6 separate regions of the Homo sapiens genome follow, and all the other regions are linked to region 5. Evidence: fine-mapped expression QTL. A gene starts in region 5. Each other region holds a variant in brackets. All regions are shown on one strand. Distances are from middle to middle.

Region 1 (5,152 bases), 70 kb before region 5:
CGGGCGCCTATAATCCCAGCTACTCAGGAGACTGAGGCAGGAGAATTGTTTGAACCCGGGAGGCAGAGGTTTCAGTGAGCCGAGATCAGGCCACTGCACTCCAGCCTGGGTGACAGAATGAGACTCTGTCTTCAAAAAAAAAAAAAAAAAAGAAAGAAAAGCAAAGAAAAGAAAATTCAGACTACCCTAGCTATACTGCAGAAGGAGATGCCAAAGCTGCCTGCCAACACATCAGGGCCCATCCTAAGCACAGAGGATACAAGCTGGATCATCCATGTCTGGTTCAGCTGTGTCAAAAAATGGGTGGGTGCTCAGAAGCTCTGGCACCAAGGGAAGCACCAGGGTTGGATGCCGACTTCCCAGAAACTTCAAGCACCTGAAACAAACAAATAAGAATGCACATCAACAAATTAGTAAAGTTAGTCCTTTGAAAAGTACTAGGAACTGGAATCAGAAAACCTGAACTGGAATTGGAAATTCTCAACCATATACTTTTGCTAACTCTATGACTTCAGATAAGTCACCCAGTTATTCTGGAACTCGGTTAATTCATCTAAAAAAACTGGTTATTATAAAGATAAAAGAACTGGTTATTTAACCAAGAGCCATTTCCCCCATCTTTCTTCCTGAGAGAGCCCTGATTTTACTCAGGTATCAGGCAGGCAGCAAAGTGCTCGGAAAAGGCAGGTCCAGCCCAAGAGCTGAACCACTATTGGTCTAAACCCATCATGGCAATCCCATTCCCATTTTCCAGTGACTGGTTTGCTGGTGGGCAAGTAAGCCAGTTCTAGACAATGGAGCACGAGAGTATGCTGGCTGGGGAGCTTCTCAGGGATGTTTTTGCAAATCAAAAGAGCAATGCATGAAAGGGAATGACCCTTCCTTTCTGTCTTGAGATATTATCTTATGAGGCAGCCATCTTACAACTATGAGAAGAAAGCCGGCCGGGTGTGGTGGCTCACGCCTATAATCCCAACACTTTGCGAGGCCGAAGTGGCTGGATCAGGAGGTCAAGAGATCAAGACCATCCTGGCCAACATGGTGAAACCCCATCTCTGCTAAAAATACAAAAATTAGCTGGGCATGGTGGCACGGGCCTGTAGTCCCAGCTACTCGGGAGGCTGAGGCAGGAGAATCACTTGAACCTGGAAGGCGGAGGTTCAGTGAGCCAATATTATGCCAATGCACTCCACCCTGGCGATAAAGAGAGACTCTGTCTCAAAAAAAAAAAAAAAAAAAAAGCCAAGAGAACTGCAGAGAAACCAAAGAGAGCCCTGGTAACCTGTTGAATGACGAATCCTGAAACCAACCTTCTGACCACTTGTTATGAAAAAACAGACTTATTGGCTAAGATATTTTTAATCAGATTGTCTTTTTTATTTGTGGGCAAAAACATTCTGATTGATATCCTGGGTGAAGTCCTGAAATCACAGATCTGTCTGAAACTAAGTAGCCTTATGCAAGTAAATTTTTTCATCTACAAAATGAGATTAAAAGTCATTACTTCATAGAGTTGCTATACGCATTAAATAACTAACATAAAGTACTTAGCAAAGTGTCTGTCACATAGTAAGAACTCAATGTTAGCTATTATAACTACATGAGGGCCCTTTATAAACTATAAGGAACTATAAAAGCAAGGTAATTATATATTTTTATTATTGTTTATGGTTTTTTTTTTTTTTTTGAGACTGAGTCTTGCTCTGCTGCCCAGGCTGGCATGCAGTGGCACAATCTCGGCTCACTGCAACCTCTGCTTCCAGGGTTCAAGCAATTCTCCTGCCTTCGCCTCCCAAGTATCTGGGATTACAGGCGTGTGCCACTAGGCCCGGCAGATTTTTGCATTTTTAGTAGAGATGAGGTTTCACCATGTTGGCCAGGGTGGTCTTGAACTCCTGACCTCAGGTGATCCACCCGCCCCAGCCTCCCAAAGTGCTGGGATTATAGGCGTGAGCCACTGCACCCAGCCAATTTAGTGCACCTTCTAAACCAGAACTTAATGAATAAAAAATAATAAGGCCAGGCACAGTGGCTCATGCCTGTAATCCCAGCACTTTGGGAGGCCGGGGCAGGGGGATCACCTGAGGTCAGGAGTTCAAGACCAGCCTAACCAACATGGTAAAACCCCATCTCTACTAAAAAAAAAAACAAAAATTAGTTGGGGTATGGTGGCATGCAACCTATAATCCCAGTTACTCGAGAGGCTGAGGCAGGAGAATCGCTTGAACCCAGGAGGCAGAAGTTGCAGTGAGCTGAGATCACGCCACTGCATTCTAGTCAGAGTGACAGAGCGAGACTCCGTCTCAAAAAAAAAAAGTAACAAAACAAAACACTATATAGGAGAAAGAGGAAATCTAATTAATTTATTTCTATACTTGTAACAGCTACCACAAGGGTTGGTGCATAGTCAGCACACAGCAGGCACATAATATTTGCTAGGTGGATAGATGCACAAATTAGTAAGTAATCTAAAATGTGATACTCAGCTTAGGAATCAGATTCCTGAGAGTTCGGTTA[A/C]GTTGAATCAGGTTTCTAAAGTAAAGGCAAAATTCAGGGCCGTACTATCCTCAATCTATAAGGACGGAACAAATGTCAGCATTATACATTTACCACATTATGGGACTCAGTGAGTAAATGGGCAAAAAAGTCATTACTTCCATATGGAGTCCCTATCAGTAGGGTACTTGGTTAAATTTTTCAGCAGCTCCACCAATGCAAGATGAATCCCTTCTTTGGTTGAAACATTAGTACAGCATAAGAGTTCATGAAGAGCCTCTCGAATATCTCTGGATGAATCCTTTTAAAAAAAAAGTAATAATAACAGTAGTTACTGTTGGTTAGCAGACTCAGCCTCTATCTACCATCCCCTTCTACCCAGCCACCTTCCCATCTAGGGTGGCCATGTAACAAAGTATGTGGAAGTTTTTTAGCTGAAATTCCTGAAATATCTTTCATTTTATTGATAAAGGACCAGAGGCAGTAGCTTTATCCCCTTTGTTCTTTAACCTTCCTTTTCCATCCTATCTGGAACTCAATCATGATGCTGAAGGTACAAGAGCCTTTTTGCAACTAGGAAAAAGGACAGGCTAAGAAGAAAGGCTAAGAGAGAGGCTGGGAATGGCCAGTTAGCAGAACACTCAGAACACACATACTTATTAAGTTTGCCATCTTATACAGGCACAGTTTGTGGCATCCCAAAACAATTACAACAGTAACATCAAAGATCACTGATCACAGATCACTGTAACAGATGTAATAATGAAAAAGTTTGAAATATTGCAAGAATTACCAAAATGTGACACAGACATAAAGTGAGCACATGCTATTGGAAAAATGGCACCGATAGACTTGCTCAATGCATGGTTGCCGCAATCTCTCAATTTATTAAAAAAACACAATATCTGCAAAGCCCAATAAAGAGAGGTATACCTGTATGTGTTAAATGGAGGAGTGAGGGAAAAAGTCAATCTATCTGAAGTGAATTTCAAGATTTCAAGAATGAGAAATATTAAAAGAGAGGCAAATCGAAATGTCACTCCTATCCATAAAATTCTGCAACAGTTTTCCATAATGTTAGAATAAAATCCAGACATCTTAAAATGGCCTACAAGGCTCTCCACCTGTCCCTAATCCCCTCTCAGACTTCATCTCATGCCACATTTCTACTTTCTCACTGTGGTTCACTCCTACTGGCTTTCTCTCTATTCTGCAAACACAACAAAGCTCACTTGTGTTTTAGAGCCTTTCCACTAGCTGTTGCCTCTACCTGAAGTTATTCTCCCAGTCTTCACATAGCTAGCTTCTGTTTATCATTCAAGACTCAACTTGAACATCATCTCCTCAGAAAGTCTTTACTAACCACTCAAATTACAGAGAAATTCCCCATTCCTCAATCATACTGTTTATCTTCTGCAAAACATTTATCACCATCTGAAATCATTTTGTTTGTTTACTCCACCTCTCTTTAGAATATAAGTTTTATGACAGCAGGGATCCTGCCTGTTTTGATATCCCTATATTTCTAATACATAGACAGTGCTTGTTGAATAAAGAAGTGAATTTTTCTAGGCAGGGTAGGATCTTGACATAGCAGGAAAAAAAAAAGGCAAATTCCAGCTGGAAGGGTCAGCAAGGTAAGGCTCAAAGCAATGAAGCCCAGTGACACAGAAAATATAAGGGAGAAGTACACAGCAGGGTGGAAGAATAGTCTACTGTAAGTTTATATTGGTCTGAACTCCTGAAAAGAATTAAAAGGCAAGGATTCTTTGTGAGTTATATACATAAGTACTCACAAATAAGCATACCTGTGAACAATTCTGTACATCAAAACATAGCTTGGAACATAGCTCAGCTACTCAGCAAACACTTACCGAGCACCTAATTGTGCCAGACACTGCTGCAAGACATTGGTAATAAAAAAATGAAGAGTCAGCCGGGCACGGTGGCTCACACCATAATCCCAGCACTTTGGGAGGCCAAGGTGGGTGGATCACTTGAGGTCAGGAGTTCGAGACCAGCCTGGCCAATATGGTGAAACACGATCTCTACTAAAAAAAAAAATATATACAAAAATTAGTATTGTGGTGCGTGCCTGTAATCCCAGCTGCTCGGGAGACTGAGGCAGGAGAATTGCTTGAACCCAGGAGGTGAAGGTTGCAGTAAGCCAAGATCGTACCACCGCACTCCACCCTGGGGAACAGAGCGAGACTCAGCCTCAAAAAAAAAAAAAAAGGAAAGGAAAGGAAAGGAAAAAGGAAAGGAAAGGAAAAGAAAAGAAAAGTCAAGACACCTTGAGGAGCTCACAGTCTTATGAAATAGAGAATTACTGAAAAATGCTACAGCAGTATACACAGGGTGCTATGGGAATAGAGTGGTGGCATTTAGCCCACCCAGTGCTGGGAGTAACAGTTAGGGAAGGCTTCCTGGATATGTTACCTAATATAGGCTGTGGGAATAAGTGGACGTCTCCTGGGTTAAAGTGGCAGTTTTGCAAACTGTGGGGGAAAATTACATTGAAGGTAAAATTGTGAGGAAAAGCAATATGTGTAGGAAAGTGACTTCAGCATAAAGTTCAAGGTGAGGAATGGTGGAAAAGAAAGCTAAAAAGGAAAGGAGTGGCTAGGCTATGTATGAGGCCACCCATGAAGAACCG
Region 2 (5,152 bases), 76 kb before region 5:
TCCACCTAGTCTGTTTCTTTAGCCTTCCCAACAACTCTGTGAGCCATGTAACATTCTGTAATAAATTTCTTTCTGCTTAAATTAGTTAAAAGCCTCTTTTGTTTTCTGCAAATGAACCCTGAGCAATAAACTTGACTAAGATCAAACAACTACAAGTCATGTGTTGTTTAACGATGGAGATACATTCTGAGACATACACTGTTATGTGATTTTGTCTCACAAACATCATAGAGTATATTTACACAAATCTAAATGGTATAGCCTACTACACACCTAGGCTATATGGTATAGTCTGTTGCTCCTAGGCTACAAATCTGTACAGCATGTTACTGTACTAAAGACTGTAGGCAACTGTAACACTGGTTACAATGGTAAATATTGGTAAATATGGTAAACAATGGTAAATATCTGTATATCTAAACATCAAAAAGGTACAGTAAAAATATAATCATGGGACCACCACAACGTTGTTATTCAGTGCATGACTGTATTAGCTCAGACGTTAAACAAAATGAGTCTGCCCTCAAAGCTCCATTCACTCAATCACTATACTACACCACTGCAGTTCTGGGAGGCTGTTCTCCCTCAGGTCTCCCAGCTCTTCTAATGTCTGCTGAAGTTGGAACTGTCTTCTGCACATGGACTACGAAACTGACATGCTCAGTTATCATTTCATACTAGCTAAAGGATCTTCTCCTTTGTGAAGCATCCCTCACCACCACTACCGTGATGGGTCGGGGACTTTCATCTGTTTTTCCACAGCATCTATGCTTCTCTTCACTGTATCATTTATCAAATTGATGATTTCTGGGTCCTGTAATAAACAGTGAGTACCTTAAGAACAAATGTCATTTCTTATTTCTCTCTACCCTCAGCAACTGGCTTATTAGAATAAACAAATAGTTAATGCTGCTAAGTGAATGAATGACCTAATATAATGGGAAAACATAACTTGGAGGATGGTTCAGTTGGCTGGCTTTATAACATGTTAAGATGCAATAATGGACAGGAAAGCATGAACAAAGTACAAAGCGCTGTTATCCACCATCATAAGTCTTTGTCTATATCCATCTTGTCTACATGGGCTCTCTAAGGGCAGAATCCTAGCTAGCTGATCTGTATCTAGCACAGAGCTTGTTTCTTAGTGTATGGAATGAAATCATCCACTAAAAATTATTAATTGAATGTGGCTGGTACCAAATACTCTTCCGGGCAGATCAAAAGAGATCTCAACTAAGATACAAATTATATAATATAATATTTTTCCTTCTTTCTTTTTTTTTTTTGAGATGGAGTCTCACTCTGTTGCCCAGACTGGAGTGCAGTGGCGCAATCCTGGCTCACTGCAAGCTCTGCCTCCCGAGTTCAAGCGATCCTTGTGCCTCAATCTCCCAAGTAGCTGGGATTACAGGCGCGTGCCACCACACCTGGCTAATTTTTGTATTTTTAGTAGAGATGGGGTTTCACTCAACGGGGCTGGTCTTGAACTCCTAGCCTCAAGTGATCCTCCCGCCTCAGTCTCCCAAAGTGCTGGGATTACAGGCATGAGCCACTGCACCTGGCCGATATAATATTTTTCTCTTTTAAGAGCAAACAATAAAGAATTTAAACTCATTTGCTTTTAGCAAAAGCAGTACTGTTTGCTCCTCAAAGATATAATTTTTTAATCTTTTAAGAGCAAACAATACTGCTTTTGCTAAAAGCAAATGAGTTTAAATTTTTTTCATATCATTCAGGCCATTTTGAGGAAGGTCTGGCAGAGCCTTTTGGTTGTTCCCCAATATCTTTCTCCCATTCTTCCTGAGTATTAGAGTCATCGCATGTAAACCAGGCATTAGTCACCCAGAATAAAGACTGCATGTCCTCGCTCCTTGAAGTGAGAGATGGCCATGTGACTTAAGTTCTAGTCAATGGAATGCAAGTAAAATTAGAGTGTACAACTTTTGGGAAGTGTCTTTAAACAAACCACAGGGTGGAGATGATACCTTTCTCTTCCTGTTTCCTTTTCCCCACAGGATGGAATACAGGGGGCACAGTTAGATCTGAATTGTTAAGCAGAGGCTGCTTGATGCAGAAGATGAAGACAGAAGAAAGAATGAGCCTAGGCCGGGCACAGTGGCTCACGCCTGTAATTCCAGCACTTTGGGAGGCCGAGGCGGGAGGATCACTTGAGCTCAGGAGTTTGAGACCAGCCTGGCCACCATGGTGAAACCTCGACTCTACAAAAAAAAAAAAGCCAAAATTAGCCAGGTGTGGTGGCATATGCCTGTGGTCCCAGCTACTTGGGAGGCTGAAGTGGGAGAATCACTTGCAGTGAGCTGATATTATGCCACTGCACTCCAGCCTGGGTGACAGGGTGAGACCCTGTCTCAAAAAAAAAAAAAAAAAAAAAAAAGAGCAAGCCTAGATCCCTGATGGTCATCTCAGCCCTGTCCTGCCTATGAGAAAGAATTAAACTTT[G/T]CTCCTGTTTTAGCCACTGTTACTTTGCATTTTGGTCACTCATCCTAATATATAAAATTAAAAAACTAAAAACAGGTTCTTTGTAACTATTTCTGTTGTGTACTAATCATCAATCGAGTCATGAATATAAAGAGCTCTTTTAAAAAATATGTTCAAACCACAATCTAATCCAAATATAAACAGACCATAAAACCGTGTGTGAATGTAGACCAATAAAGTCAGAATATCAAGCCTAGTAACCAACACCAGAATTCAGAACAGTCAAGCTGAGTGTAACAGCACTAACTCTGTCAGATGAAGGGATGATTACCCTACCTGATGGTGAATTCCAGCAGCTCCTGGGCTCCCTGAGGGTCCAAGTGCTGAAGACTATACACTCTTTCAAGGCTCTGCTGCAGGAACTGCTGGGAAGGATCCTCTTGAGGTATGATGCTGGGAGAAACAGCTGATGACACCAGTTTTCTACCTGGTAACTAAGCAGAGTGGGATTACAGAGTCATTAAGTTTGGTGGCTCAGCTTTTGGTAACACACACACAAACACATAAAAGCACATTAAAAACGTGAGCTAAACAAAACAAAGGGGAAAAAAGGCTAGGATATTCTATAAATAACATTTCTCCCCTTCCTCAGCAACATTGGGAGTTAAAGAGAAAGAGACAAAATGCAAACATGGTCTACCCAATACAGCCACAGCTGCCAGGAGAAAAACAGAAAGATATAATATTTTCTATTGCTAACTGAAATAAATGGGCCAACCCTAGGAAGGAGACTAAAAATTGAACTGTTGTTACATTTTTTTTTTTAGACAGAGTTTCACTCTTGTTGCCCAGAGTGCAATGGTACCATCTCGGCTCACTGCAACCTCCGCCTCCCAGGTTCAAGCGATTCTCTTGCCTCAGCCTCCTGAGTAGCTGGGATTAGAGGTGGCCGCCCCCACACCCAGCTAATTTTGTATTTTTAGTAGAGACAGGGTTTCTCCATGTTGGTCAGGCTGGTCTCGAACTCCTGACCACAGGTGATCTGCCTGCCTCGGCCACCCAGAGTGCTGGGATTACAGGCGTGAGCCACTGCACCCGGCCACATTTATCTTTAAAACACTATCTTATCTTTCACTTGAAGGAAGAATAATGATTTATTCCCAAATAAATTTATATAGCATATAATTTTTTCATGAGAATAATTTTTTTTTATTTTTGGCCTAGCCCTACAGATATACTTATTCTTACTGTTAAAAGTGGTTACCTTTTAAGATGGATGGGGAGGAGAGAGCAAAGAGTATTTCACTTTTCATTTTGTATCTACTTGTCTTTTGTTTTTTTTGAGATGGAGTCTCGCTCTGTCGCCCAGGCGGGAGTGCAGTGGCGCAATCTTGGCTCATTGCAACCTCTGCCTCCTGGGTTCAAGCAATTCTCCTGCCACAGCTTCCCGAGTAGCTAGGACTACAGGTGCCCACCACCATGCCCAGTTAATTTTTGTATTTTTAGTAGAGATGAGGTTTCACCATGTTGGCCAGGCTGGTCATGAACTCCTGACCTCAGATGATCCACCCGCCTTGGCCTCCCAAAATGCTTAGATTACAGGTATGAGCCACCGCACCTGGCCTCATTTTGTATTTTCTATAAAGTTTAAATTTTCTAACCATATATATATATACACATATATATACATATACATATACACATATATATACATATATATACACACATATATATACACATATACATACATATATACATATATATACATATATACATATATACACATATATATACACATATATATATATACACACATATATATAAATGTTCCTCTAAATAAACACATATTACTCCAAATAAAGTGATTTGGAGTCACCCAAGCAGGGATGAGTTAATGCAAATAGAGAGATTGGAAGAGTACCTGAGCCACAGCATTCACGAAGTGTTTGCTATTATTATTATGATCTATTTTTAAATTTTCTTCTATATAACTCTAGGTTTTAAAAATAGTAAAGGTTTTATTTTTAAAAAATAAGCACTTGTGGAGAATCATAGCTATATGTAATAGTTAAAATATAACAATTTAGGCTGGGTGTGGTGGCTCATGCCTGTAATCCCAGCACTTTGGGAGGCCGAGGCAGGCAGATCACGAGGTCAGGAGATCAAGACCATCCTGGCTAACACGGTGAAACCCTGTCTCTACTAAAAATACAAAAAATTAGCCGGGCGTGGTGGCAGGCGCCTGTAGTCCCAGCTACTCGGGAGGCTGAGGCAGGAGAATGGAGTGAACCTGGGAGGTGGAGCTTGCAGTGAGCCGAGATCGTGCCACTGCACTTCAGCCTGGGCGACAGAGCAAGACTCCGTCTCAAAAAGTAATAATAATAAAAATAAATAAATAAATATATATATATAACAATTTAAATTCTTGATCTAAAATATAATCTATTGTTCCAGGTTCCTTTCTTCTTGCCTAATATCAATAACCCAGGGACACCAAAAAAAATGAATCATCTTAAAAGGTAAAGGATACAAAAGCAAAAGTATAAAACAATGGCAAAGAGCCCAAGAGAGAAAGAGAATGAACAAACAAGTTTTCAGAGAATATATGGACTGCTTTCTACTATTTAATAACCACAAAGCACAAAAAATAAAAAGCCAAAAACAAGCTGCACACAGTGGTGCTCACCTGTAATCCCAGTGACTTGGGAGGCTG
Region 3 (5,152 bases), 37 kb before region 5:
GATCTGACAGCAGGCAGAGCTCAGGCAGTAATACTTGCTCATCTACCACTCACCTCCTGTTGTGTGGCCTGGTTCCTAACAAGCCATGGACCAGGACTGGTCCACAGCCTGGGGGTTTGAGCCTCCTGAACTAGGACATAACAAGTGCTTAATAAATGGGAAAAACTTTTTTTTTATTGTTTTCCTTTTTCTCTAGGCTCCGGCTATCTTAATTCCTAGTAGGGTTAATAGAATTATGTTTTAAGATTCTTTCTAGTTCTAAAAGGCTATTTCTCTACAGGAGAGTGAACTATTTCTTTCTATATTAAGAAATTCTGGGGCTGGGAGTAGTGGCTTAAACCTGTAATCCCAACAATTTGGGAGGCCAAGGCAGAAGGATCACTTGAGCCTAGGAATTCAAGACCAGCCTGGGCACAAAGCAAGACCCCATGTCTACAAAAAATACAAATTAGCTAGGCAGGGTGGCACATGCCTGTAGTCCCAGCTACTCAGGAGGCTGAGGTGGAAGGATTGCTTGAGCCCGGCAGGTCAAGGCTGCAGTGAGCCGTGACTGCACTATTGCACTCCTGCCTGAGCAACAGAGGAAGACCCTGTCTCAAGAAAAGAAAAAGGAAAATAAATTCTGGGGTTTTAAATTCAGGTCACACTGCCCCATCTGTAGTTTCTCAAAATGTCTGTAAAAACTTAATGAGAAATGTGCTCATTTAAAAAAAGGATTATTGGCTGGGTGTAGTGGCTCACATCTATAATCCCAGCCTTTTTTTTTTTTTTTTGAGATGAGAGTCTCCCCCTTGTCGCCAGGCTGGAGTGCAGCAGCGTGATCTTGGCTCACTGCAACTTCTGCCTCCCAGGTTCAAGCGATTCTCCTGCCTCAGCCTCCCGAGTAGCTGGGATTACAGGCGTGCGCCACCATGCCCAGCTAATTTTTGTATTTTTAGTAGAGACGGGATTTCACCATGTTGGCCAGGATGGTCTCAATCTCCTGACCTCGTGATCCGCCTGCCTTGGCCTCCCAAAGTGCTGGAATTACAGGTGTGAGTCACCGCACCCAGCCTATAATCCCAGTCTTTTGGGAGGCTGAGGCAGGAGGACTGCTTGAGGCCAAGAGTTTGAGACCAACCTGGGCCACACAGTCCTCATTTCTACAGAAAAGAAAATAAATATATACATGCATACATACATACATAAAAAGTATAACTTACCAACAGTTTTGCTGCCTGAACACGAACCACCCAAGAGCCATCACTGACCATGTGACAAATTTTGCCAAACGCATCATCAACTAAGCGTATTTCTTCATTAGAAGAAGGAATTGGGACAATGCTAAATTAAAAGAAAAGAAATGAAATCACTTAGAACAAAACATGAACCTAAGTCTGCAGGCTCAGGCCAGGCACAGTGGCTCACATCTATAATCCCAACACTTTGGGAGGCCCAGGCAGGTAGATTGCTTGAGCCCAAGAGTTCAAGACCAACCTGAGCAATATGGCAAAACCTCATCTCTACAAAAAAAATACAAAAATTAGCTAGGCGTGGTGGCATGCGCTGATAGTCCCAGCTACTTGGGAGGCTGAAGTGGGAAGATTACTTTAGCTCTGGAGGTGAAGGTTGCAGTGAGCTGAGATCACACCACGGCACTCCAGCCTGGATGACACAGCAAGACCCTGTCTTGAAAAATAAATACAGTCTGGGCGCAATGGCTCACGCCTGTAATGCCAGCACTTTGGGAGGCTGAGGCAGGTGGATAACTTGAGGTCAAGAGTTCGAGACCAGCCTGGCCAACATGGCGAAACCTCCTCTCTACTAAAAATATAAAAATTAGCCAGGCATGGTGACACATGTCTGCAATTCCAGCTACTCAGGAGGCTGAGGCAGGAGAATCGCTTGAACCTGGAATGTGGAGGTTGCAGTGATCCAAGATAGTGCCACTACACTCCAGCCTGGGCAACAGAGCGAGACTCCATCTCAAAAAATAATAATAATAATAATAATAATAATAATAATAATAATAATAATAATAAACAAATAAATACATAAGTAAGTAAGGCTGCAGGCTCAATAAACTGAGAACAGTCAATGAAGACTGACACACACAAAAATGATAATTGAATAGTTCAAATCCTAGAATGATTAAATACAGTTTGGAATAAACAAATCACTCTGGGAGTACAAACCAACTCTTTCAGTTGCATTGCAAATTATGCTTTTTTTTGAGACAGGGTCTCACTTCTGTCGCCCAGGCTGGAGTGCAGTGGCGTGAGCACTGCTCACCACAGTGTCAACTTCCTGGGCTCAGGTGATCCTCCCAGTTCACCCTCCTGAGTAGCCGGGACTACAAAAGCATGCCACCACACCCAGCTAATTTTTTATATTTTTAGTAGAGATGGTTCACCATGTTGCCCAGGCTGATCTCAAACTCCTGAGATCAAGCAATCCACCCGCCTCAGCCTCCCAAAGTGCTAGGATTACAGGGCTGAGTCACTGCAACCAGGTGCAAATTTTCAATGTATTGAATAAAAGTGTGTAACCCACCAAAGGTTCAGCCAGGCGTGTAATCCCAGCACACTGAGATACTGAGGCGGGCAGATTACCTGAAGCCAGGGGTTCAAGACCAGCCTACCCAACATGGCAAAACCTCATCTCTACTAAAAGTACAAAAAATGAGCTGGGTGTGGTGGTGCGCGACTGTAATTCCAGCTACTTGGGAGGCTCAGGCATGAGAATTGCTTCAACCCAGGAGTTGGAGGTTGTAGTAAGCCGAGATCACATCACTGCACTGCAGCCTGGGCCACAGAGCAAGACCCTGCCTTAAAAAAAAAAGTACGTAACCCACCAAAGGTTCAAAGATTTATGAAATTATCAAAAACTAGCTTCCACCGAATATTTCATATCCTTAAGTTTATTATCTTCTGTAACTGAACTT[C/CT]TTTTTTTTTTTTTTTTTTTTTGAGAGAAAGTGTCTTGCTCTGTGACCCAGGCTGGAGTGCAGTGGTGTGATCTCAGCTCACCACAATCTCCACTTCCCAGGTTCAAGCGATTCTCCTGCCTCAGCCTCCCTAGTAGCTGGGATTACAGGCGTGTGCCACCATGTCCGGCTAATTTTTGTATTTTTAGTAGAGACGAGGTTTCACCATGTTGACCAAGCTGGTCTTGAACTCCTGACCTGAGGTGATCCGCCCACCTCGGCCTCCGAAAGTGCTGGGATTACAGGCACCACCGTGTCCAGACTGAACTTCTATAAATACAGTAAATCTCAGAATAAATCAATATAAAACTTACTTATCAATCCAGTCCTAAAAGAAGACACAATTTCCAGTTAGCCCTTTTCTTTGTATGTGTCTAAGTCCTAAAACACTACAAATGGAGCCTACTCCTACAGGTTTATTAATTCATTCTGGTTTTCAAATTCTGGCAGTTTAATGAACAGGAAAAAACACCCCTTTTTCCTATACAAGGAAAAATAAAATATTCTATAAATATTTATAAATAAAAGATAAATAAACATTTATAAATATAATATTCTATCTTACAAAATATAATAAATAATATTGCCTACCTCCTCAAAGAATCACTGTGGTTAATTTAATTGCTGTGAAAATATTTTTAACCAGGAAAACTACATAAGAGATCATTATTCTCAAACTCATCTGGTATCTTTATCTGGCATTTGGCACAAGCCAAACTAAAATGGGTCCCAAACAATTTTAAAGATTTTTTTGTAAAGTACTGAAAACCATTTAAGAAAGATATTCCAATTTCTTCACTTATGGATGAGAAGGTTAGGATAAAAGAAGTGAAGTATCTTTCCAAAGTGTACAGAAAGTTCCTATCAGAGATGAAAAATGAGGACCAGGCAATCTGATTTTCAGGGCCTGTGCTTTTCCCTTATTCCCCATTGCCTTCCAAAAATGTAACCAACATTTCTTTTCTAGAAGTGGGCTTTTTGCATGGTGAGAGGAGAGGAAAACGGCTTCACAATCAACAAAAGCCAGCTTACACCCACACTGACCTTTCAGGATAGAGCTGACTGACGACCCAGATAAGCTGGACTGCAGCACTGCGCACTTGTTCATAGTCATCAGAGAGTAATTTACAGGCCTGCAAAGAAGAATTCCAAAAGTCTATTAGTTCTGTGTCCTCTCAGGCAATGTTTAAACTATTTTCAAAGTGAAGATAGGGTGGTTGGATAAGGATGCCCAGTAAAACACTTGTGTGTGGTTTTAACTTCTGGAATCTTTGCTTAAAAATGAATCTTGACCTCTGTCAGCTGCTCTGGCTGTATTCTGACTATGCACCCTACCCCATGTCTGAAAGGAGAATCACAGACTGACAGCATAAAAACATCTAGAACAGATCAAACCCAGCAAAGCATGCTGGGAGCAAACAGTACTGTTCTCACAGGTTCAAACACCAATTATGGCTTTTTCCTCCCCCTGTAAAAATCAAAGCACACACTTCTGTTTACCTTGGTCTGAAATCACTGGCCTCTGTTTCAATCCACTCACTCTTTCTGGGTAGCCCCATACTCCCTAAATACTGATGGCTTTGAATACCTACCCTTAGCTCTGATTTCTCCTGATCTCCAGGCCTTTATAACTACTTATGGCTGGAATTCTCTTCATGGATGTCCCATCAAACTTTTATACTCAACACACGCAAACCTGAACTCATTAAGGAAGCAAATTCTACCTTATATCTTAAATTCTACACTATCAGTCCATCCTCACTCCCTTGATGCTGTCATTACTGCTTGCCTAGATTACTAACAGAGTCTTACGCCACCAAACATCTGAATCAGCCAACTAACTTCCCTTCCTCTGAGTCCTTACGATCCAAGTTTCCTTTGAATTATTTGGCTTCCCACATAGTTTTCTTATAGAAAAAGAAGGCGATGGTCACACCACCACAAGCATTCTGGACCCATTCTACTTCATTCAATAGAGGAATAAACTTGGTTTACACATCTGTGATGGGGCTTGGCTAATTATCTTCTTCCCATGAGAGATAAAACCACTCTTGGCAGGCTAACAAAACCTAATCTCTGAACGTGGATTTAGATTCCTTTTACCAGATTCAGTCAATTATCCTCCAAGAGAAATACAGCCTCATAAGGCCTTTTGGTTGGCCATCAATCAGCTTTTCCACAACTTCATTA
Region 4 (5,152 bases), 46 kb before region 5:
CCACAGTCCCACAGCACACAGTCCAACTGGTCCTGTGGTAGCCCTGGCCCCCTACCATAGACTGCTGCCAAACTGCCCAGCCCCACTGCACAAAAGCATTTGAGCCTAGCCCAAAGCAACAGCCAACCAGGCAGTAGCCCCATTTCCCTACATAGCCACAGAGCTGCCCAGCAGGCCACCGCGGCAAAGGCCTGAGCCCAGCACGACAGCCACCACAGCAGCAACTACTGCCTCCCTGGAAAACCAGATAGACAGCCTGGCAGCCATTTTAGCCTGTACATGTCTTGGCCAGAAATCAGCTCAGTACCCTCATCTACAGCATTGCCATCACAAACTCCCACAGCCTAGGCAACTGAGGCAATTGCAAACATCAATGACTAGGATTATAGCTGAAGATTACAGCTGAAGCTGACAAGGATTATTACACCACCCACTGAGTCCACCCAGAACCAAAGGCAACACACCATACCCAACTAATACCCTAAAACCATCTACAGAAAAAGACTGTTACTATATACTAGCTACTCAATAAAATTGAAAAGAGCAACTACTCTACTAAATGCACAGATATCAACATCCAGTATCTTACACACGATAAATGAAAATCAAGGAAACATGACACCCTCAAAGGAATACAGTAAGTCTCCTGGCTGGGGGCAGTGGCTCACATCTGTAATCCCAGCACTTCGGGAGGCCAAGACAGCCAGAAAGCATGAACTCAGGAGTTCAAGACCATTCTGGGCAACATGGCAAAACCCGTCTCTACAAAATATAAAAAAATTAGTCGGGTGTGGTGGCATGCGCCTGTAGTCCTAGCTACTCAGCAGGCTGAGGTGGGAGGATCACTTAAACCCAGGAGGAGAAGGTTGCAGTGAGCTGAGATCATGCCACTGCACTTCGGCCTGGGTGACAGAGCAAGACCCTGTCTCAAAAAAAAAAAAAAGGAAAAAAGTCTCCAATGACAGACATTAAAGAAAAGGACACTTACAAAATGCCTGAAAAGGAATTCAAAATAGTGATCTAAAGGAAACTCAGTAAGATACAAGAGAATACAGACAAACAATTAAATGAAATCAGGAAAACATTCATGATCCGAATGAGAAATTCAACAGAAATCAATATCATAAAAAAGAACCAAACAGAAATCTTGGAACTGAAGAATTTAATGAAAAAAATAAAAATAGTATACAATTGAGAGCTTCAACAATAGACTAGGATCAAGCAGAAGAAAGAATTTCTGACCTTGAAGACAGGTCTTTCGAAATAACCCATTAAGAGGAAAAAAAAAAAACAAGTAAGAATAAAAAAGAAAGCCTTGGAACATATGGGACATCAACAGGCAAACAAATACTTGCATTGAAGATTGCCTGATGGAGAAGAGAAAGAGAAAGGCACAGAAAACCCATTTGATGAAATGATAGCTGAAAACTTGCCAAGTAGTGGGAGAAATACGGACATCCAGATTCAGGAAGTTCAAAGGTTCACAATTACATTCAACCCAAAAAGATCCTCTCCAAGGTACATTATAATCAAACTATCGAAAGTCAAAGAGTAAGACTTTCAAAGCTGCAAGACAAAATTGTCAAGAGAATCTCCATTACTATCAACAGATTTCTCAGCAGAAACCTCGCAGACCAAGAGAGAATGGGATAGAATTAATATATTCAAGGTATTGAATGCTACAGCTAGAAACAAAAGGACAATAATCACTATCATAAAAACACACAAAAGTATAAAACTCACCAGTAAAGGCAAACTCATAAATCAAACAGATCAAACCCCAGTGATACAATATGTCATATAAAATTTTCAATCTGCTAGTATGAAGGTTAAATTCAAAATGGTCAAAAACTACAACAGCTACAAATAGTAGCTAAGGAACACATAACAGATGAAGAAGAAAATTAAGGCAACAAAAATATAAATTGAAGTGGGGAGGGAAAAAATCTAGGGTCCTTTTATGTAACCAAAGTTGAGTTGCTATCAGCTTAAAACATTCTATTGTAACTGCAAGACTTTTTTTTTCCCCCTTGAGACAGTCTTACTCTGATGCCCATGCTAGAGCATAGTGGCCTGATCACGGCTCACTGCAGCCTCAATCTTCCAGGCTCAAGTGATCCTCCCACCTCAGCCTCCTGGGTAGCTGAGACTACAGATGTGTGCCACCATGCCCAGCTGATTTCTTTTTTCTTTATTTAGTAGAAACGAGGTCTCACTATGTTGCCCAGGCTGGTCTCAAACTCATGAGCTCAAGTGATCTGCCTGCCTCAGCCTCCCAAAGTGCTGGGATAATAGGCAAGAGCCACCACACCAGCCTAACTGAAGACTCTGTAGTAACTATGTAGAAAAAAGTTACAGCAGATACACAAACAAGAAAGAGAATGAAAATAAAGCGTGGCCCCACAGAAAACCACTAAATCAGAGGTAAACAACAAGAAAGGAAGACAAGAACAAAGGATCTCCAAAATTACTTTTTGGTAATTAACAAAATGGCAGGAATAAGATCTTATCTATCAATAACAATCTTGAATATAGCTGGGCGCGGTGGCTTATGCCTGTAATCCCAGCACCTTGGGAGGCCAAGGCAGGCGAATCACTTGAGGCCAGGAGTTTGAGACCAGCATGGCCAACATGTCAAAACCCGTCTCTAATAAAAATGCAAAAAAATTAGTTGGGCATGGTGGCACATGCCTGTAATCCCGGTACTGGGGAGGTTGGGGCACGAGAACCACTTGAACCCAGGAGGTGAAGGTTGCAGTGAGTTGAGATCACACCAGTGCATTCCAGCCTAGGTGACGGAGTGAGACCCTGTCTCAAAGAAACAAAAAAAAAAAAACAAAAAAAAA[AAAG/A]AAGAAGAAGAAGAAGGAAAAAATCTTGAATATAAATGGATTAAGTTCTTCAATTAAAAGGTACACTACAGCCTGGGCAACAGAGAGACAGACACCCTGTCTCAAAGAAAGAAAAAAAAAAAAAGGTATACATTGGTTGAATAGATTAAAACACAAAATCTAAGTATACATTGCCTAGAAGAAACACACTTCACAAGCAAGAATTAAAACATATACCAAAACCTACGGTATGCAACAAAAGCAGTTCTAAGAGATAAGTGTACAGCAATAAATGACTACATCAAAAAAGAAGAACAATCTGGTTTTTAGTTTTTTTTAGCGACAGTTTCGCTGTTATCCAGGCTGGAGTCCCCAGGAGTTTGAGGTTGCTGTGAGCTATGACTGTGCAATCGCGGAACCGCACTCCAGCCTAGGCAACAGAGCAAGACCCTGACTTAAAGAAGAAAATAAAAAAAGAATAAAATCTTGTCATTTGCCACATCGATAAACCTGGAGGACATCATGTAAAGTGAAATAAGCCAGACATGGAAAGGCAAATATTGCATGATCTAAGACTTAAACATAAGACCTAAAACCATAAAAACCCTAGAAGAAAACCTAGGCAATACCATTCAGGACATAGGCATGGGCAAAGACTTCATGACTAAAACACCAAAAGCAATGGCAACGAAGCCAAAATTGAGAAATGGGATCTAATTAAACTAAAGAGCTTCTGCACAGCAAAAGAAACTATCATCAGAGTGAACAAGCAACCTACAGAATGGGAGAAAATTTTTGCAATCTATCCATCTGCCAAAGAGCTAATATCCAGAATCTACAAAGAACTTAAACAAATTTACAAAAAAAAAAAAAAAAACCATCAAAAAGTGGGTGAAGGATATGAACAGACACTTCTCAAAAGAAGACATTTATGTGACCAACAAACATATGAAAGAAAGCTCATCATCACTGGTCATTAGAGAAATGCAAATCAAAACCACAATGAGATACCATCTCACACCAGTTAGAATGGCAATCATTAAAAAGTCAGAAAACAACAGGTGCTGGAGAGGATGTGGAGAAACAGGAACACTTTCACACTGTTGGTGGGAGTGTAAATTAGTTCAGCCATTGTGGAAGACAGCATGGCGATTCCTCAAGGATCTAGAACCAGAAATACCATTTGACCCAGCAATCCCATTACTGGGTATATACCCAAAGGATTATAAATCATTCTACTATAAAAACACATGCACACGTATGTTTATTGCAGCACTGTTCACAACAGTAAAGACTTAGAACCAACCCAAAGGCCCATCAATGATAGACTGGACAAAGAAAATGTGGCGCATATACACCATGGAATACCATGCAGCCACAAAAAAGGATGAGTTCATGTTCTGTGCAGGGACATGGATGAAGCTGGAAACCATCATTCTCAGCAAACTAACACAAGAACAGAAAACCAAATACCGCATGTTCTCACTCATAAGTGAGAGTTGAACAATGTGAACACATGGACACAAGGAGGGAAACATCACACACCAGGGACTGTCAGAGGGTGGGGGCTGGGGGAGGGACAGCATTAGGAGAAATACCTAATGTAGATGATAGGTTGACGGGTGCAGCAAACTACCATGGCACATGTATACCTATGTCACAAACCTGCATGTTCTGCACATGTATCCCAGAACTTAAAGTATTAAAAAAAAAATTGATATCATAGAGGCAGAGAGTATAACAGTGGTTAGCAGACACTGGGGAGGGGAGGGAGTAGGAGAGAATGGGAAGAGACTGGACAACAGATACAAAGTCACAATGAAGAGAAATAAATTCTGGTGTTCAACTGCACATAAAGGTGACTATGATTAACAGTAAAATATTGTATATTACAAAATATACAATATTATAGCTGCAAGAGAGGCTGTTGAAAGTTCATGACAAAGAAATGATAAATGTATGAGGTGATAACTATACTAACTATCCTGATTGGATTAATATTCAACATAGATGTGTATCAAAACATCAACTTGTGCCCCATATATACAATGTGTCAATTTTTGTTTGTTTGTTTTATTATACTTTAAGTTTTAGGGTACATGTGCACAACGTGCAGGTTAGTTACATATGTACACATATGCCATGTTGGTGTGCTGTACCCATCAACTGGTCATTTAACATTAGGTATATCTCCTAATGCTATCCCTCCCCCCTCCCCCCACCCCACAACAGGCCCTGGTGTGTGATGTTCCCCTTCCTGTGTCCATGTGTTCTCATTGTTCAATTCCCACCTATGAGTGAGAACAGGCGGTGTTTGGATTTTT
Region 5 (5,152 bases):
GCAATCTCCACCTCCTAGGTTCAAATGATTCTCTGACTGACACCCAACATGCTGGGATTATAGGTGTGTGCCACCTCCACCTACTACGTTCAAGCGATTCACCTCCCTGACTCCCAACTAGCTGGAATTACAGGTGTGTGCCACCACACATGGCTAATTTTTGTATTTCTAGTAGAGACAGGTTTTGCCATGTTACCCAGGCTGGTTTCGAACTTCTGGCCTCAAGTGATCCCTCTGCTTCAGTCTCCCAAAGTCCATTCTTTATTAGAAAACAAATATCAGACATGGCATGGTGGCTCATGCCTGTAATCCCAGCACTTTGAGAGGCTTAGGCAGGCGGATCACTTGAGGCCAGGAGTTCAAGACCAGCCTGGCCAACATGGCAAAACCCCATCTCTACTAAAAACACAAAAATTAGCTGGGGGTGGTGGTGTATGCCTGCAGTCCCAGCTATGCAGGAGGCTGAGGATTGCGTGAACCCAGGAGGCAGAAGTTGCAGTGAGCTAGGATTGCGCAACTGCACACCAGTTTGGGCGAAAAGAGCGAAACTCCATCTCAAAACAGAAGAAAAGGAAACAAATATCCGATGGGCGTAGTGGCTTACACCTGAAATCCTAGCACTTTGGGAGGCTGAGGCAGGAGGATCCCTTGAGCCCAGGAGTTCGAGACCAGCCTGGGCAACATGGTGAAATCCTGTCTCTGTTAAAAAATAATAATAAAATAAAATAAATTTCCTTACCACCTAATGGTGCGTTTTTATGTACTGAGCAATCACCTCCTTACAAATTCACATTTCTATAGAAAAGAGAGTAGAATTATTCTAGACAAGAACACAGTATGACATGATAAAAAGAATAAGGACTTTGGAGTCAGAGGAATTTGTATTCAATTACAACTTACTAGCTGGGGAAGGCCTTCTTCTATAGGAGGGCATACCAATACTTTATTATCACAGAGCTAGTCGATAAATCTGTTATTAAACATAACTTTATTATACGTATATGTAAGTGCTAGGCACATATCAGTTCTCCCTCCTCATCTTTTCAGCGGAGAAAAAAGAACAGAAGCACTAAGATCTCATTTAATCACTTTATGTTAACAACTGATGAAAAATTAAGTGAAGAAATTAGCTCTTCCCTTAAAATTCTTAGCCATTTCTATCCTAGTCCTCTCAAACTCAGTTTTCAGTCTTATCGAAGCTGTAGTTAGGTCAAAAGCTAGGAATTTTTTCCCTAAGTATTATATAAGGGAGAGGACAAGCAATATCAACTGTCATTCAACCACCAATAACACTTTAGTGAGCCAGGCCCTATTGTCCATCTCCAGGACACGGAGATGAGCCAGGCATTAGCTCTGCCATCAAGGACCTCCGACTGGTGGGAAGATAGGTACACCGGTAATGACAGCAGCACTGAACAAAAAGTACAAATAGATTAGTACCACAGAATGCTACAGAAACAGGTGAAGAAGAGACTAAGCTCTCGCTGAGGTTTCATTTGGGTCTTGAAGCACAAATGTTAAGTCCACTGGGTGGAGAACAAAAAGAAAGGGAAGAATGGCATGTATTCTGTGAGAAGAGACAACCAGTGCAAGAGTTTTGAGATATGCAAACACAAGAACACATGGCATATCTGGTCATGTGAGGATGGGTGGAAGAGGGCTGAGCAGTCTTGGGAAATGGGAACAACAGAATGTTGGGAAGAGAGGAAATCACATTGTGCAACAGTGCTAATGTTCTTAATGCCACTGAACTTTATACTTAAAATTGTTAAAATTGTAAATTTTATATTATGTATTGACATATTTTGTATTTGTATTAACATATTTTAATGCTGGATGAATGAATCCATGTAATGTTTAAGGATCAGTATCCTGCTGGATGCTCTAAGCCTTGCCACTCTACAAGTCTAAGGATCTAAGAATGCAACCAATGCACTGGTGTAAATTTGGGGGCATGTCAGGAATGCAGAATCTTGCCTCACCTCCTCTGCTTGACTTATCAAATAGAATCGACATTTGAACAACGTCCCCAGGTAATTTGTATACACATTAATATCTGAGAAATAGGACATCAGGATGATTTAGGATCAACCCTAGCAACATCTACGTGGAGACACATGGAGCATCACTGACTCCCGACAGGGACTCTGCCCACCTGTCACAACTTCATGGTGAGGAAGGTACTGCCCTCCTTCCTAGGTGAGCTGTTCTACCAATAGAGAGCTCTTCCCCTATGAAGTCTGTGACCCCCGCCTGCTTAGACTGCGCCTGAAGGAATTCTATAGACCCTTCTTTCAGCCCCTTAGAACCTTGTGTATATTCCAACTGGTCCCTGGGAGGTTTTTTTTTGGAACGGGGGTGCGGGGAGGCTAGAAGGGGCTCTGCTGCTAACTGGCTGTATCCTCGTACCCCTCCGGAAGGCTCAATGTCCACATCTGGAAAACGAGGATGCTAATGTAACGCGATGGAGCAAAGTTGTGTGAGAGAATAAAATGAAATAACGGATAAGACAGTTTCGTAAATTAAAAAACACTGTTTCTCCTAATAATTTTTTTAAAATCCTGTCAGACTTCACATATTAATGACAACAGCGGCTGCAAACTAACACGCCCACTAACTTGCAATATCAGAGATTATCAACAAGTCAGCACTTAACACGGGCGTATGGAGCCTCTTCTGTTCCGGCAAAGTGCCTGGGATTTGGATAATCTACCCTGGTCCGGATCGGTTCTGGATCTTTCCCGCCAGAGCTTACCTGAACCACTTTCGTGAATTCCTCATAAACCCGCTTCTTAAGGTGCGCCGCCATGCCTACCCGCGGGCCCTCTCAGCTTCCGTACACTAGGAGGGAGGCGGGGGTGGACGGATCCGGAAAACTTGCGTAGGCGCGGGGGGTGGGTGGATGACTTGCCGAGATCCCACAAGGCAGTGGGATTTGGGGAAAGAGCGACCGCTTCCTGTTGCTCGACTGCCTCGCCACTGTACGGACTGATTTGGCGGCCTACGCCGGAAGAACGGAAATAAGAGCTTCGCTTGTGGGAGGCGGGGCCTCTGGCGGGAGGAGCTGAGACTGAAAGGGTGGGCAACCCAATGGGAGCTTTGGGAGGCTGGTTGGTGGCCTCGGAGTGGCTAAGAGACTAGCGCGGCGCGGCGCGAAGGGAGGGAGGGAGGAAGTACAGGTTAAAGGGCAGAGGCGGGGTGCTCCAGAGCTAGAGGCAAAACCCGGAGCTCTGTAAGGGGTTTACGACTCGTGAAAAAACTCAGAGGCTCGGCTGACTTTCCCATCATCCTTTGCTGTACACGATGCTGTTTGTAGGTTTCCTGAGCACTGCCTTTGTTCAAGCTGTGCGCCACCTCTCTTGTTTTGGGGTGCCTTTCCATACTTCCTTATTCCAGTTTTGCAAAAGCTGCCATCCTTTAAGGCATCAATCCCTGCTCTGATAGCTATAGTACAGTAGAAGACTTCTGAGACCAAGGATAAAGCAACAAAGCTACAGACTACAGCTCTGGTTCTTGAGCAAATGGCTCAACTACAAATGCATTTATAATAACTAACCTGACAAAGATGTGACAATGGAGTGAAATAATGCAGGAACATTTTACGGACTGTAAGGTGTAGTGCACATGTTAGTGTCAGTAAATCCAAGGTCAAGTTTTACAACCTACATGAAACTAGCTGTTCATTATTTTGGTCTTTCAAAAGAATGTGGGCCAGGCGCGGTGGCTCATGCCTGTAATCCCAATACTTTGGCAGGCCGAGGCGGATGGATCACTTGAGGTCAGGAGTTCGAGACCAGCCTGGCCAACATGGGGAAACCCCGTCTCTACTAAAAATACAAAAATTAGTCGGGGCATGGTGGCACACGCCTGTAATCCCAGTTTCTTGGGAGGTTGAGGCAGAAGAATCACTTGAACATGGGAAGCGGAGGTTGCAGTGAGCCGAGATCGCGCCACTGCACTCCAGCCTGGGCGACTGAGCGAGACTCCGTTATCAAAAAAAAAAAAAAAGAATTAATGTGGGATAGTTTAAAAAAAAAAAAGCAGGAGGCTGAGGTGGATACAGAGGACCCAAAAATAAACAAAAGATAGTATTTATCCTCAAGGTCCTACAATCTGAGAAGACAGACACCCAAACTGATGGTGACAGTGCAACTGAAATGTGCTGGGTAACGGGAATGAATGTGGTTCAAACAGACCTAATTTCTTCAGAGTGCCTCAGGGAAGGCTTTCCTAAAATTAGAGGAAACTGGGAGTGGTGGCTCACGCCTATAATCCCAGCACTTTGAGAGGCCGAGGCGGGCAGATCACCTAGTTCAGAAGTTTTGAGACCAGCCTGGGCAACATGGCGAAATCTACTTTAAAAATACAAAATTTAGCTGGGCATGATGGTGGCCCACGCCTGAAGTCCCAGCTACTCTGGAGGCTGAGGCGGGAAAATCGCTTGGGCCTGGGATGTGGAGGTTGCAGTGAGCCGAGATCCAGCCACTGCACTCCAGCCTGGGCAACGGAGTGAGACCCTGTCTCCAAAAAAAAAAAAAAAAAAAAAAAAGGCTGGGCGCGGTGGCTCACCCCTATAATCCCAACACTTTGGGAGGCCGAGGCAGGCGGATCACCTGAGGTCGGGAGTTCGAGACCAGCCTGGCCAACATGGTGAAACCCCGTCTCTCCTAAAAATACAAAAACTAGCCGGGCGTCGGGGTGGGTGACTGTAATCCTAGCTACACGGGAGGCTGAAGCAGGAGAATCGTTTGAACCCAGGTGGCAGCGGCTGCAGTGCGCCGAGATCGGGCCTCTGTACTCCAGCCTGAGCAACAGAGCGAGACTCTGTCTCAAGAAAAAAAAAAGAAAAAAAAAGGAAACTATTTCTAATGCAGCTTTAAAAGAATGAGTTTTTCCAGAAACAAAGGCATCCCAGACCGCCGAGATAAGATATACAAATATGTCAAGGGAAATGAAAAACATTTAGCAAACAGTACCTTTAATAAAGCTTAGCTGCTATTATTACCATTATCATATTCTATCAAATCTAAGCTGCCAGCAATTGTAAAATCAATATTTTATTTATTATGTTAAGAAAAGAAATGCTGAAATTAAATACAATGGTTTCTAATTGCTTAGATTTGTTATGTATACTTACAGAAACAGCTCTTTT
Region 6 (5,152 bases), 270 kb before region 5:
TAAATACCCCTGATTCAAAGTGAAAACTGTTAAGATGAAATGACTCGTTTTCTTATCTGTCATGTCACATATGGCTCCTACCCTCCTTTCCCTTTCCAATTCCATGCCAGCTAGATTCTACTGCTTTAGAGTAGGAACTCTGCATTCCAAAGAGCCCCTGGACAAGTTGTATATCCTCATTAGGCCTCAGCTTTCTTATTTATAAAATAAAAGAACAGATTCTCTTGAGTATTACTAAATTGGTCTTCTAAATAAAGCAGTAAAATTGCCACTGATAAAAATCAGAAATTAAAATGACAATCAATTATACATGAGAATAAAACATACATGTTCATACATATCATATGAGCATATATAATAACCAGTCTAGAATTTTAATTATCTAATATCAAAAGGTAAGACTAGATGTTTTCTCAAAGTCTTGTCTGGTCCTGCCTCCATTTTACAGGAAGGAAAATTAAGACTCAGAGACTTTATTTATTTTTGGCAAAGATCCAGTCCCCTAATTTCATTACAACCTGCTTCTAACTTAAGGATCTATGCTTTATTACTACTCATATTCCATTGAGAATTCCATATGTTAAAAAAAGGAAAAAGAGAATTCCATATGCAACGAATGGCTCGATCTATTTATTTCTGAAAGTCATGGTGGGAACTGAAGAGTATACTGAAGTTATGCACCATAACAATTTTAAAAAGCTTCAAAACGTAAGAGAGCTAATATTGCTAGGAAAATCTATTTCAATTACTTCCACTACTTTTTTTTTTTTTTTTTTTTGAGATGGAGTTTCACTCTTGTCACCCAGGCTGGAGTGCAATGGCAGGATCTTGGCTCACTGCAACCTCCTCCTCCTGGGTTCAAGCGATTTTCCTGCCTCAGACTCCCGAGTAGCTGGGATTACAGGCACCCATCACCACGCCTGGCTAATTTCTTTTGTAATTTTAGTAGAGATGAGGTTTCACCATGTTGGTCAGGCTAGTCTCGAACTCCTGACCTCAAGTGATCTGCCTGCCTTGGCCTCCCAAACTGTTGGGATTACAAGCGTGAGCCACTGCACCCAGCCTACTTCCACTACTTTAAGCAAAAAGGGAATTTAGCATTAAAATTTATTAAAGAACAACTCCCTAAAAGGCTTTTAATCTGTTTAATGTGTTTAAACACAAGCCTAAGGTAGTCGTTATTATATGAAAACAAAACTACCCATCTTTGGGTTTTTCCTATTTTTGAACAATTTAAAAAATCCTAAATCTGAGTTAGTCAGAGGAAATTTTTATGAATTCCCTCAAATCACATCCAAATTTCTTAACACTATGTACAGAATATTTTAGACTATGGACCCTAACAACAATCCAGTTGTTTTGCTACCCCTCCCTCACTTGTTCTCTGTTCTCCAAACCATTTCTTCTTTCAGGTATGTTAAATCAGATATATCCCTCCAAAATACCAGGCTTTCTTAGGATATCGGGTGACTGACTGCACTTCTGCTCTCTTAGCCTGGAATGTGTTCCCCATGGCTAATTCCAATTACTCTCTCAAAGACAAGTATAGAATGAATAAACAAAATCTAGTATATCTACATATGGAAATACTACTCAGCCATAAAAAGGAATAAAGTTCTGATTTATATTACACGGATAAACTTTGTAAAGATTACTCTACTTGAAAGTGGCCACAAATGGCTGGGCGTGGTGGCTCACACCTGTAATCCCAGCACTTTGGAGGGCGAGGCAGGCAGATCACCTGAGGTCGGGAGATGGAGACCAGCCTGACCAACATGGAGAAACAGGAAAGGAAAGGAAAGGAAAGGGGAAAGGAAAGGGGAAAGGGAAGAGGAAAGGGAAGGGGAAAAGGAAGAGGAAAGGGAAGGGAAGGAAAAAGGGAAGGGAAGGGAAGGGAGAAGGGAGACGGGAGAAGGGAAGGGAAGGAAAGGAAAGGGAAAGAAAGAGGCCACACACAGAAAGTCACTTATTATATAATTCTATGTATACAAAATGTTGAGAATAGACAAATTATAGACACAGAAAGATTGGTGGTTGTTAAGGGCTAGGAAAAGGGAGAATGAAGAATAACTGCTAATGGGTACAGGGTTTTCTTTTTAGGGTGAGAAAAATATCCCGGTGTTAGATAGTGGTACCAGATGCATAACTTG[T/TAA]AAAAAAAAAAAACTGCTCAATTATATATATTTTACAAAAAAGAGATGGTGGCTTGGACAAGAATGCAGCTATGAAGGAGAAGTGATCAAATTCTAGATACAATCATGCATGAAGAGCTGATTGGATTTGCTGTTAGGGTAGATGTGGAGTGAGAGAAAAAGCAGTTACGGATGTGCTCCAAGGTTTTGGGCCTTAGGGTTTACACTTGGTATAAAAGCACTCTCTGTAGTCCCACTCTGTTCCTGAAGAAGCACCTGATGGAATCTGGTATAAGGTCTCTATTTGCTAAATTTCTCTCATCATTAATAACCAAACACTAACACTTGGTTATTATATTTACATCTCTGCTTATCTTTTTCATTCCTAAAGAAATTCTATTGACACATTCCATAGGGTTGAGCCAAGGAAAGGATGTAGCTGCTATTAACAGAGATGGGACGTTCAGATTAGGGTAGAAAGGTTCAAAGTTTAGTTTTGGGCAGACTGGTTACTGACTTTGACTTAACCAGATTCTAAACTGTTATATTTTCCTATATGTACCTTAAGTTAATCTAGACTTCAATGAAATGGAACACGTCATCCTAACCATTATTATTGTGAAATATGATTTCTCCCAGCCTAGGAGTTGTTCAGAGTTTGAATTAGTGGTAGGTGCTAAACATTTCAGAAGCAATGAAGAAAAAAAAAATAACAAAAATAAACAGACGCCCCTGAACCCCAACCCCACAAAAAAAAAAAAGTCAAGTATAGGCATTATCTTCTGCCAAGTATGAGCCAAGTATCTGGTTCTTCCACAGCACCCTTGATAATCTCCATCACAGACTTTGTGACTCTGTATTATGTAATATCTCCCTGTACCTTTCTCCCATAACAAAAACTCCTTAACAAATGGGACCAGGTCTTCACATCTACAGAGCATAAAACAGTATAAATATAACAAGCCTTTTGTAAATATTTTAAATATATGATTCCAGAGTTGAGAAACAATATTCCAACTTTTTGGTATAAATGCCAAATTATTCAGTAGGCAAAAAAAAAAAAAAAAAAAAAAAAAAAATTGTGGAGGCCAAGAAAACTGAAGAGGCATTAATTAGTAATATCAATAGCAGTACTATTAATCTAAGATGTTAACATTAGTGAATGAGCACTATGTTCCAAGCATTAATTATTCCAAGAGTTTTATATTAATTAGTTCATATAATTCCAATATAACCCAATTAAGTAGGTATTAAATTATTCCCATTTTATGACTGAGGAAACTGAGGACACATAGAGAGGTATGGTAATTTGCCTAAGGTAAGTTAGTACAATTTAGCAAGACTGAATTTTGAAGTCTGACTTTAGAGCCCTTCTTAATCACTGTGCTATATTAGCAGGTTTTAGATATATATATATGGTTTAGAAATGCATTCATACAGTTTGTAATTATGGGTACATGAAAACTGTATATACTATTTCAAATTCAACTTTCTGAAAATGACTGTCAAACCATTATCAATTTTGAAAATATTTTTAACGAGGTATAATTCACATACTGTAAAATAAACATATTTTAAGCACTCAGTTCATCAGTTCTGACAAATGCATACATTGTGTAATCTACACCATAATCAACATAAGGAATATCACTATTCCCACAAAAATTCCCTCCTGTCCTTTCCTACTCAATTCCTTTTCCCCACCAAAGCAAGAAGAATCACAGTTTTTATTATGATAACCATAGATGATACAGTTTGGCTGTGTCTCCACCCAAATCTCATCTTGAATTGTAACTCCCACAATTCCCACGTGTTGTGGGAGGAACCCAGTGGGAGGTGATTGAATTATGGGATGTGTCTTTCCTGTTCTGTTCTCGTGATAGTGAATGAGTCTCACGAGATCTGATGGTTTTGAAAACAGGAGTTTCCTGCACAAGCTTTCTTTTCCTGCCGCCATTGATGTAAGACATGACTTGCTCCTCCTTGCCTTCTGCCATGATTTTGATGCCTCCCCAGCCATGTGGAACTGTGAGTCCAATTAACCTCTTTCTTTTGTAAATTGCCAAGTCTTGTCTTTATCAGCAGCATGAAAACGGACTAATATAGTAAATTGGTATCAGGAGTGGGGCGTTGCTGAAAAGGTACCTGAAAATGTGGAAGTGGCTTAAAAAATGGGTAAAAGGCAGAGGTTGGAAGAGTTTGGAGGGCTCAGAAGAAGATATGAAAATGTGGGAAAGTTTGGAACTTCCTAGAGACTTGTTGAATGGTTTTGACAAAAATGCTGACAGCAATATGAACAATAAGGCCCAGGCTGAGGTAGTCTCAGAATGAGATGAGGAACTTGTTCCCCAACAGGAGTAAGGGTGAGTTTTGTTACGTTTTAGCAGAGACTGGTGGCCTTTTCCCCTGCCCTAGAGATTTGTGGAACTTTGAACATGAAGGAGATGATTTAGGGTATGTGGAGGAAGAAATTTCTAAGCAGCAAAGCATTCAAGAGGTGACCTGAGTGCTGTTAAAGTCATTCAGTTTTATAAGGGAAGCAGAGTATAAAAGTTTAGAAAATTTGCAGCCTGGCAATGTGACAGAAAAGAAAATCCCATTTTCTGAGGAGAAATTCAAGCTGGCTTCAGAAATTTGCATAAGAAACAAGAAGCCAAATGTTATCCCTGAGACAATGGGGAAAATGTCTCCAGGCATGTCAGAGGTCTTCACGGCAGCCCCTCCTATCACAGGCCTGGAGGCCTAGGAGGAAAACATGGTTTCATGGATCAGGCCCAGGGTCCATGTGCTGTGTGCAGCCTAGGGACTTGGTGCCCTGCATCTCAGCCACTCCAGTCATGGCTGAAAGCTGCCAATGCAGAGCTCAGGCTGTGGCTTCAGAGGGTGCAAGTCCCAAGCTTTGGCAGCTTCCATGTGGTGCTGAACCTGTGAATGCACAGAAGAACTGGAGTTTGGGAACCTCTGCCTAGATTTCAGAAGATGTATGGAAACACCTGGATGCCCAGGCAGAAGTTTCCTGCAGG

Alleles and levels. Alleles are on the strand shown, and positions count from the first base shown. SD is a standard deviation of normalised expression in the study named. Not every link is listed here.
In carriers of allele TAA in region 6, the expression in prefrontal cortex of the gene that starts at base 2,834 in region 5 tends to be higher than with T alone (small effect, 0.39 SD a copy in BrainSeq).

The links. PIP is the estimated chance that this variant, and not a neighbour inherited with it, causes the effect. A credible set is the group of variants that fine-mapping cannot tell apart.
Region 1: its variant is the best candidate, but not a certain one, in a credible set for the expression of INTS4 in whole blood (TOPMed, PIP 0.79).
Region 2: its variant is the best candidate, but not a certain one, in a credible set for the expression of INTS4 in whole blood (TOPMed, PIP 0.51).
Region 3: its variant is the best candidate, but not a certain one, in a credible set for the expression of INTS4 in monocytes (BLUEPRINT, PIP 0.70).
Region 4: its variant is the best candidate, but not a certain one, in a credible set for the expression of INTS4 in monocytes (Quach 2016, PIP 0.81).
Region 6: its variant is the best candidate, but not a certain one, in a credible set for the expression of INTS4 in prefrontal cortex (BrainSeq, PIP 0.71).

What each region holds. Positions count from the first base shown.
Region 1 is chr11:77,922,096-77,927,247 of GRCh38, forward strand. INTS4 (integrator complex subunit 4) reads right to left here. Exons shown (of 23, transcript NM_033547.4): 12 at 2,655-2,797; 13 at 261-376. Among named protein-coding and RNA genes, the nearest start is that of INTS4, 70 kb to the right of the region's middle. The variant A/C (reference allele first, on the strand shown) is at 2,518.
Region 2 is chr11:77,916,046-77,921,197 of GRCh38, forward strand. INTS4 (integrator complex subunit 4) reads right to left here. Exons shown (of 23, transcript NM_033547.4): 15 at 2,776-2,933. Among named protein-coding and RNA genes, the nearest start is that of INTS4, 76 kb to the right of the region's middle. The variant G/T (reference allele first, on the strand shown) is at 2,461.
Region 3 is chr11:77,954,740-77,959,891 of GRCh38, forward strand. It overlaps INTS4 (integrator complex subunit 4), which reads right to left. Exons shown (of 23, transcript NM_033547.4): 7 at 4,007-4,095; 8 at 1,203-1,323. Among named protein-coding and RNA genes, the nearest start is that of INTS4, 37 kb to the right of the region's middle. The variant C/CT (reference allele first, on the strand shown) is at 2,924.
Region 4 is chr11:77,945,832-77,950,983 of GRCh38, forward strand. The region is part of intron 8 of INTS4 (integrator complex subunit 4); the gene reads right to left. Among named protein-coding and RNA genes, the nearest start is that of INTS4, 46 kb to the right of the region's middle. The variant AAAG/A (reference allele first, on the strand shown) is at 2,847.
Region 5 is chr11:77,991,835-77,996,986 of GRCh38, forward strand. INTS4 (integrator complex subunit 4) reads right to left here and starts at 2,834. Exons shown (of 23, transcript NM_033547.4): 1 at 2,756-2,834. The coding sequence starts at 2,809. RefSeq lists an enhancer at 2,749-2,948 and a silencer at 3,149-3,218.
Region 6 is chr11:77,726,716-77,731,867 of GRCh38, forward strand. The region is part of intron 4 of RSF1 (remodeling and spacing factor 1); the gene reads right to left. Among named protein-coding and RNA genes, the nearest start is that of RSF1-IT1, 10 kb to the right of the region's middle. The variant T/TAA (reference allele first, on the strand shown) is at 2,151.